Linked DNA regions of Homo sapiens: all the other regions are linked to region 1. Evidence: fine-mapped expression QTL. A gene starts in region 1. Each other region holds a variant in brackets. All regions are shown on one strand. Distances are between the middles of the regions. Region 1 holds the start of PPARD (peroxisome proliferator activated receptor delta). Region 2 overlaps PPARD (peroxisome proliferator activated receptor delta). Region 3 overlaps PPARD (peroxisome proliferator activated receptor delta).

Region 1 (2,500 bases):
TATGTTAAGGGAGGGACTCTGACTTTCACCGTCCATTTTTACCTCAATCTCAAAGGGCAAGGAGGTTGACATCTAAGTTACAAATATAATGCACAAGCATTTCAAAAAGTAGGGGAAAAAAAAGAAAAAGAAAAAGAGAAGCAGAAAGAAGGGGGAAAAAATCACTCATCCCTGCCAGGCACGGTGGCTCACGCCTGTAATTCCAGCACTTTGGGAGGCTAAGGTGGGAGGATAACTTGAGTCCAGGAGTTCAAGACCAGCCTGGGCAACATGGCAAAACCCTGTCTCTACTAAAATTACAATAATTAGCTGGGCGTGTGGCGCATGCCTGTAATCCCAGCTACTTGGGAGGTTGAGGCAGGATAATCGCTTGAACCCGGGAGGCGGAGGTTGCAGCGGGCTGAGATTGCGCAACTGCACTCCAGCAGGGGCGACAGAGTGAAACTGTGTCTCAAAAAAAAAAAAAAAAAAAAAAATCACTCATCCAGATAGCTAGGTGTGGCCTAAGGAGCTTGCGGCCTACGGAAGGTGTGGCCGAAGGAGAGGGGAGGGGTCATCTTTAATGATGATGGAGGGGAGGCATTGGTCATATACCTGAGAGTCAAGCTTTGTTCATCGTCAGATGAAAGCCAACTTCTTCCACCAGATTGCCTCCCAGCTGCTAGGTAGTTTCCTGTGGTACATCTTAAGCGGTAGGTTGGGATAATAGGTCCCTTCCAGGTCTTAAAGATGTGGATTAATAAGAACAGAATTTTCTACAACAATAAGGAGGATGTCCCCTATTTTAGGTGAATAAGCGTATTGCATAAGCACATGGGAAGAAAGGTTAAGAACTCTAAGACCGTAAATTTCCAGTTGTAGAAGCCTCTTGAAGGCGGAAAGCCCTTTTTTGAAAATTATAGGCGATATGATCTCCTCCAGTGGACCTAGCACTGGGTTAAGAGTCTCTCCAGACTTGTCACTGCAAGTCACGTACCTTTTCTAGGACTAAGTTTCTTCACTGGAAGATGAGGAGGTTGCACTAGATGACCTAGAAATTCCCTTCCAGCTTTAAATTCCCTCTTGTGTCACTTGCTGGACTTGTTCTACTGGACCTGGCGCTCCCCTGCTCCTCCCTTAGCTGCTACGTCCGCATCCCGCACCAGAGGGCGCCACAGGCTGGCCCGGGGCAGCGTGCGGTGGGCGGAGAGGCAGAATTAGGGGAGTCTCCAGGAGGCGTGGTGATTGGCCGCCGCCGGGCGGAAGGGGGCGTGGGGAGGGAAAGGCCGAGCAGCGCGGTGACGTCTCGCTGGCGGGGGCGGGGCCGGGCCGCGGAGCGTGTGACGCTGCGGCCGCCGCGGACCTGGGGATTAATGGGAAAAGTTTTGGCAGGAGCGGGAGAATTCTGCGGAGCCTGCGGGACGGCGGCGGTGGCGCCGTAGGCAGCCGGGACAGGTCAGTCCGAGACGAGAGAAGCGGTCAGGCAAGTGGCGGAGGGAAGCGCCGGGCCTGGGCCGAGGCGGCCAGCGGGACTGGGGCGCAAGGCCCGGCGGCGGGGAACGGGGTGCGGGGAGCTGCCGGGGTCCGCGGACAGCGTCACGGCGGCTTCCTGATGCTCCGGCCCGCTCCGGTCAGCCGTCGTGCGTTGCCATGTAGGCGCCCCGCTGACCCTGCGCCCCCCCGCCCTTGGACCCCCATAGCTGCTTGAGTGAGTCCGAAATACGGGCCTCCTTCCACCCTACTCTTTGCCCCCTCTTGGGCCTGGTGGCTTCGTCTTCTCCCACTTGTGAGAACCCCGTCTCAGGCCCGGGGGCCTCTCCCATTCCCCTCCCCTGCCTCTGACCTCTTCCTTCACCCGTTTCTGGTGTTCCTGAATCCACTGCCCTATCTAGCGAGAGTCTTCTCTGGGATCTTTTCCTCTGTCCCCCTCGTTATCCTTGTCTCCTGCCTTCATCCTCCCATCCTTGCTCTCTCAGGCTTTACTCTCTCTCCCCATCCCTGTCCCCTTCTTATCTGTGGTCTGATCCCTCCTAGTATTATGGGTCCCCATCCTCTTCCCCAGGGTGTTCCTAGGCTTTTTCCAACTCCGTGCCTGCAGTCCCTGTCTCCCTAAGACTCTCACCTTGGTTCCCTGAGAGGCCCTGTTTTTGCTCCTTTTTCCGATTTCCTTCGTATCAATTCTGTCCCCTACATTCCTGTCGCCCACCTCCTTTTCTCTCCCTGTTCCTTTCCCCTGCTTCAGGGAGAAGCCTTAGCTCCACACTCTACTCTACTTTCACTTGACCTGCAGTTGACATAACCATGGGGTGGGGGTGGAGGTGTTCAGACCTTGATCGAATTAAGAGGCTGATTGACTAAAGGAAATAACAGATTGTGTGGGAGAATGTACGTGGGTGTTGCATCAGAGATGATGTCCAATTTGTAGGCCATTCTTCTTATCTCAGCTTTAATACTTCCCCTTTATGGGGCTGTTGACTTCCAGGAACCCTTGGGGGAGACGGCGCTGAGCTGGATGTGTGCC
Region 2 (2,500 bases), 47 kb after region 1:
GAGACTCTGTCTCAAACAAAAGAGGGGAAGGTAGGAATGAGACAAAGGAAAAGGGGAGGCGGGCATTTCAGGCAGGAGAGCAGCATAGGCAGAAGGTGCAAACATGTGGCAGAGGGTCGGTGTCCATGGACACGCTTCCACCACCTGGTCTAATCATTGACTTATCAGACATCTAAATGCCTGCTGCGTGCCCAGCACTGTAGAGGGCCACAAGGCAGCAGGAACCTCTCAGTGCCTGCCCTCTGTGGGCTCTGACTCCAACCAGGAGAAACTGGACGCACAACAGCAGGCAAAACTAGCTGATGGTGATAGAGGTCAGAAGAGTGGTTTACAGCCAGGCACAGTGACTCACACCTGTAATCCCAGTACTTTGGGAGGCTGAGGTGGGAGGATAGCTTGAGCCTAGGAGGCTGAGGCTGCAGTGAGCTGTGATCAGGCCACCACTGCATTCCAGCTTGGCCTGGACAACAGAGCAAGACCCTGTCTCAAAAAAAGCGGAGTAGTTACTTATTGTGGAGATTAGCTGTTCAGGGGCACAAAGAACCTTGTAGGGTGCTGGAAATGTTTACTGTCTTGACCTGGGTGATGGGTTTTTTTGGTTTGTTTTTTGTTTGTTTATTTTGTTTTTTTGAGATGGAGTCTTGCTCTTGTGCCCCAGGCTGGAGTGCAATAGCACTATCTCGGCTCACTGCAACCTCCACCTCCTGGCTTCAGGCAATTCTCCTGCCTCAGCCTCTCGAGTAGCTGGGACTACAGGCGCCTGCCACCATGCCCGGCTAATTTTTGTATTTTTAGTAGAGACAGGGGTTTCACCATGTTGGCCAGGCTGATCTTGAACTCCTGACCCCAGGTGATCCGCCCGCCTCGGCCTTCCAAAGTGCTAGGATTACAGGCGTGAGCCACCGCGCCCAGCCTGGGTGATGGTTTTATGGTGGTATATAAATGTAGGAATTCATGGGGCTTATTATGTTTAAGATTAATGCAGATTGCATACTCTAACCATGAGTATGTTATACCCCAATTATAAATCAAGCAGGCAAATAAATAGCATATTCCCCAAAATAAAGAAGTAAAATGCAATAGCAAGAAAGTGTGCAAAGAGCTATGCCTGGGAAAATACAGGAACTGTATCATTTTGAAAGGGTGAGAGATGAGATTTCAGACCCTCACCCTCTCTCACTGTGTCATTTCTGAAGGGCCCTGGTGACTTTCTTTGC[C/G]CCTCTCCACTCTTACAGTCATTGGAACCAGAGGGCAGAACCCCGGGCCTCAAAATTAAGTCTATACACCTTAGAAACTAGGAATTCAAGGCTAGCCAGGTCCTGGCCCTTTATCTGTCCTTCAGAGAGTGGGGTGCCCCAGCCAAAGCGGACAGCTCGCCATTCCCAGATGTGCCCTGTGTTCTCGGCTGCGTTGCCTGACTCACCTTGGCCTTCCCTGGGAGTGCCTTTTCTAGTTTTCTGGCCCAGCTAGAAGAAAGGGCCATTACACCTACTCCAGAATCATCCCTGCTGCTCCCAAGTTGGAATATTTCTTCCTCCACAGTGGCCACCTCTTATGTGCCCTCCATCACACAGTTTGTATACTTACCTCTTCAAGGGCAGGCTGTGTTTTACTCCTTTTGTCATCTCTCCCCATAGGGGTCTAGGTCAGTGCTTTTGTACATGGTGCCTGAAACAGTCCCATAAATGATATTTTATTTGAGTGGGGCTCTCTGGCTGGAGCTACTAGGTGGAATGTTGCCATGTGGGAGCAGGGGTCATAACGAAGGCTGGCCATCAAGATGCTGGTACTTCCAAATTCCCAACAGTTATTAACTTTCAGGATTGAGGAACAAGTAATAGAAATTCCCTGGAATGCCCAAAATCATAACTTTTTCTATATCTTTCCTAACACTTTATGAGTTTTTAAATAAGGAGTGGTCATAATAATAAATGGAATTATTTTTTCTGTGATAAAATTTCAGAGGTGTTTCTGTAAAAAAAAAAGAAAGAAAAGAAAAAGAGAAAAAAAGATGTAACATTAAATGCGTGGTTTGGTGGTTTGGTTGGGCACAGTGGCTCACACCTGTAATCCCAGCACTTTGAGAGGCCAAGGCAGGAGGATGGCTTGAGCTCAGGAGTTTGAGACCAGCCTGTTAACAGAGAAAGATTTTGTCTCTATTAAAAATAAAAAAAATTAGCCAGCATGGTGGCATGTGCCTGTAGTCCCAGTTACTCAGGAGGCTGAGGCAGGAGGATCACTGGAGCCCAGGAGTTTGTGGCTGCAGTGAGCTATGATAGCACCACTCCGGGTGGTGACAGTCTTGGTGACAGAGTGAGACCCCATCTAAAAAATTAAAATAATAAAAATAAAATAAATGCATAGTTTATTGTTATTATGGACAAATATATTGTGATATATGATTGTATATATTTCATTAGCATGTAAAAATGATCTCTATCTGATATAGACATCTGATAATAGAAAATGCGGAAGAGAGCATTAACACAAAATGAATACC
Region 3 (2,500 bases), 74 kb after region 1:
GGCAAGCACTTGGTGGGCATCAGGCTGGGCCCAGCACTGTGCCCAGGGCTGGCCATACAGTGGTGGACAAGGCTGAGTGCCTGTCCCAAGGAGCCCACAGTTCAGGCAAACAGGACAGCAGAAGTAAAGAGGCTGCTCAGTAACCCAGCCTCAAATCCCTGCAGAATTTGGCCTGACTTCAGAAGCTGCTGGGTGCTTGTTTGCCTGTGAGCTCTGCCAGCAAAGTAAATAGACCAATCGGGCGCCTCCTGGCTGTCTTCACAGCCATGACAACGGCATTCTCCCAGCATTGGAGGCTAGATATGCAGGAGAGCTCTCAGCCACAAATGATGTGAATAAGGTCAATAGTGTCTATTTGCTGAACTTGTCATCAAAGATGGTGAAACTGATACTTTACTCTCTGGGTGAGAGGGCTAGTGTTTACACTGAATCCAAACATTTGGATAATGACATGGTGCCTCCTCAGCAGTGACTGTGTCTTCTTGTTCATCATAATAATGTTATTGATTAGCGGTACTGAACATGTAGGTATGCGTAGTAGTGAGATGCCGAGGTTAAGAGCTCAGCTCCAGGAATTGCATGGTTCTAGGTTATAATTCTTGCTCTGTCACTGTATTAGTCAGGGTTCTCCAGAGAAGGAGAACCTGTGTGTGTGTGTGTGTGTGTGTGTTGAAAGAAAGAGATGTGTTTTAACGAATTGGTTCACACAGTTGTTGGAGTGGCAAGTCCAAATTTTGAAAGGCAGGCAGGCTGGAGAGCCGGGGAAGTTGATGTTGCAGCTCAAGTCCAAAGGCAGCCTGGAGGCAGAATTTCCTGTTCCACAGTGGGGCCACGGTAGGCACTCAGTCTTTTTTCTTAAGGCCTTCAGTTGTTGGATGAGGGCCACTCACATTATGGAGGGTAATCTGCTTTACTCAAAGTCTTCTGATTTAAATGTTAATTGCATCTAAAAAATATCTTCTTAGTGGCCGGGCACAGTGGCTCATGCCTGTAATCCCAGCACTTTGGGAGGCCAAGGTGGGTGGATCACCTGAGGTCAGGAATTC[A/G]AGACCAGCCCAGCCAACATGGTGAAACCCCATCTCTACTAAAAATACCAAAAAAAACTAGCTGGGCGCCTGTAATCCCAGCTACTCGGGGGGCTGAGGCAGGAGAATCGCTTGAACCCGGGAGGCAGAAGTTGCAGTGAGCTGAGATCGCGCCATTGCACTCCAGCCTGGGGAACAAAAGCGAGACTTCATCTCAAAAAAAAAAAAAAAAAAAAAAAAAAAAAAAAAAAACACCTTCTTAGCACATTGTTTGGTCAAACAACTGGGCACCGTGGCCTAATCAAGTTGATATGTAAGACCAACATAGCCGCTGCCAGCAAGTTACTAACACTTCTGAGCCTTGGAGCCTCGGCTTCCTTGCCTGTAAAGTGGGGGTAAGAAGACCATCTTGAAAGGTTGTTTTGAGGTTTTACGTGAGATGAAATGGGTGTCCAATGGAGTGCCTTTAGCAGGACACCTGCTTACCCCCACCTCTACCCAGGACATCATGATGCGGGGGAAGTGGTGGAACCTTCAGAACCCAGCCCCTAGTATGAGAAGAATTCTGCCATCACCTTTCTTTCAGCAGAGAGGGAAGCAGTCCCCTTCCGTGACAGTCACATGCGTGAGTGATGGCTCCTTCCAATATCCTGCACTTCTTACTGCCCCTTACCTGGCGTTGCTCCACTCTGTCTCATGTTCTAGTTTTCTTATCTCTTTCTCTTTTTTTTTCTATTTTATTTTTTTCCTGTAGGCACAAGTGAGTTACAGTAGGTTAAGTTACACCTTACCTTTCCTTGTTTTTCTTGTTTATTTATTTGTTTATTTATTTTTTTGAGACAAGGTCTTGTTCTGTCACCACAGGCTGGAGTACAGTGGTGCAATCACAGCTCACTGCAACCTGGACCTCCCAGGCTCAAGTCATCTTCCCACATTCAGGCAATCCTCCCACCTCAGCCTCCCAAGTATCTGGGACTACAGGCATGTGCCACCACACCCAGCTAGTTTTTAAAATTTTTTATAGAGATAGAGACAGGGTCTCACTATGTTGCCCAGGCTGGTCTCAAACTCCTGGGCTCAAGTGATCCTCCCGCCTCAGCCTCCCAAAGTGTTGGGATCACAGGTGTGAGCCACTGCACCTGGCCTTTTGTTTTTTTTAAGTAGAGACAGTCTTGCTTTATCACCCAGGCTGGTATACGATGGCACAATCACAGCTCTCCTAGGCTCAAGGATTTTCCTGCCTCAGCCTCCTCAGTAGCTGGCACTATAGGCAGGTGCCACGACACCCAACTATTTTTTTTTTTTTACTTTTTATAGAGACAGGGTCTCACTATGTTGCTCCTGGCCTCAGGTAATCCTCCTGCCTTGGCCTCCCAAAGTACTGCGATTACTGGCGTGAGCCACCACACTCAGCCGAGTGCAATGGCGCGATCTCAGCTCACTGCAGCCTCCGCCCCCCTGCCCCCGGGTTCAAG

Evidence for each region.
Region 2: its variant is fine-mapped to the expression of PPARD in whole blood (TOPMed, PIP above 0.99).
Region 3: its variant is fine-mapped to the expression of PPARD in whole blood (TOPMed, PIP 0.91).

The regions. Positions count from the first base shown.
Region 1 is chr6:35,341,248-35,343,747 of GRCh38, forward strand. It overlaps PPARD (peroxisome proliferator activated receptor delta), which reads left to right and starts at 1,311. Exons shown (of 8, transcript NM_006238.5): 1 at 1,311-1,434. RefSeq lists silencers at 1,163-1,372, 1,553-1,692, 1,723-1,772.
Region 2 is chr6:35,388,699-35,391,198 of GRCh38, forward strand. The region is part of intron 2 of PPARD (peroxisome proliferator activated receptor delta); the gene reads left to right. Among named protein-coding and RNA genes, the nearest start is that of PPARD, 47 kb to the left of the region's middle. The variant C/G (reference allele first, on the strand shown) is at 1,218.
Region 3 is chr6:35,415,134-35,417,633 of GRCh38, forward strand. All of the region lies in intron 3 of PPARD (peroxisome proliferator activated receptor delta), which reads left to right. Among named protein-coding and RNA genes, the nearest start is that of FANCE, 36 kb to the right of the region's middle. The variant A/G (reference allele first, on the strand shown) is at 1,047.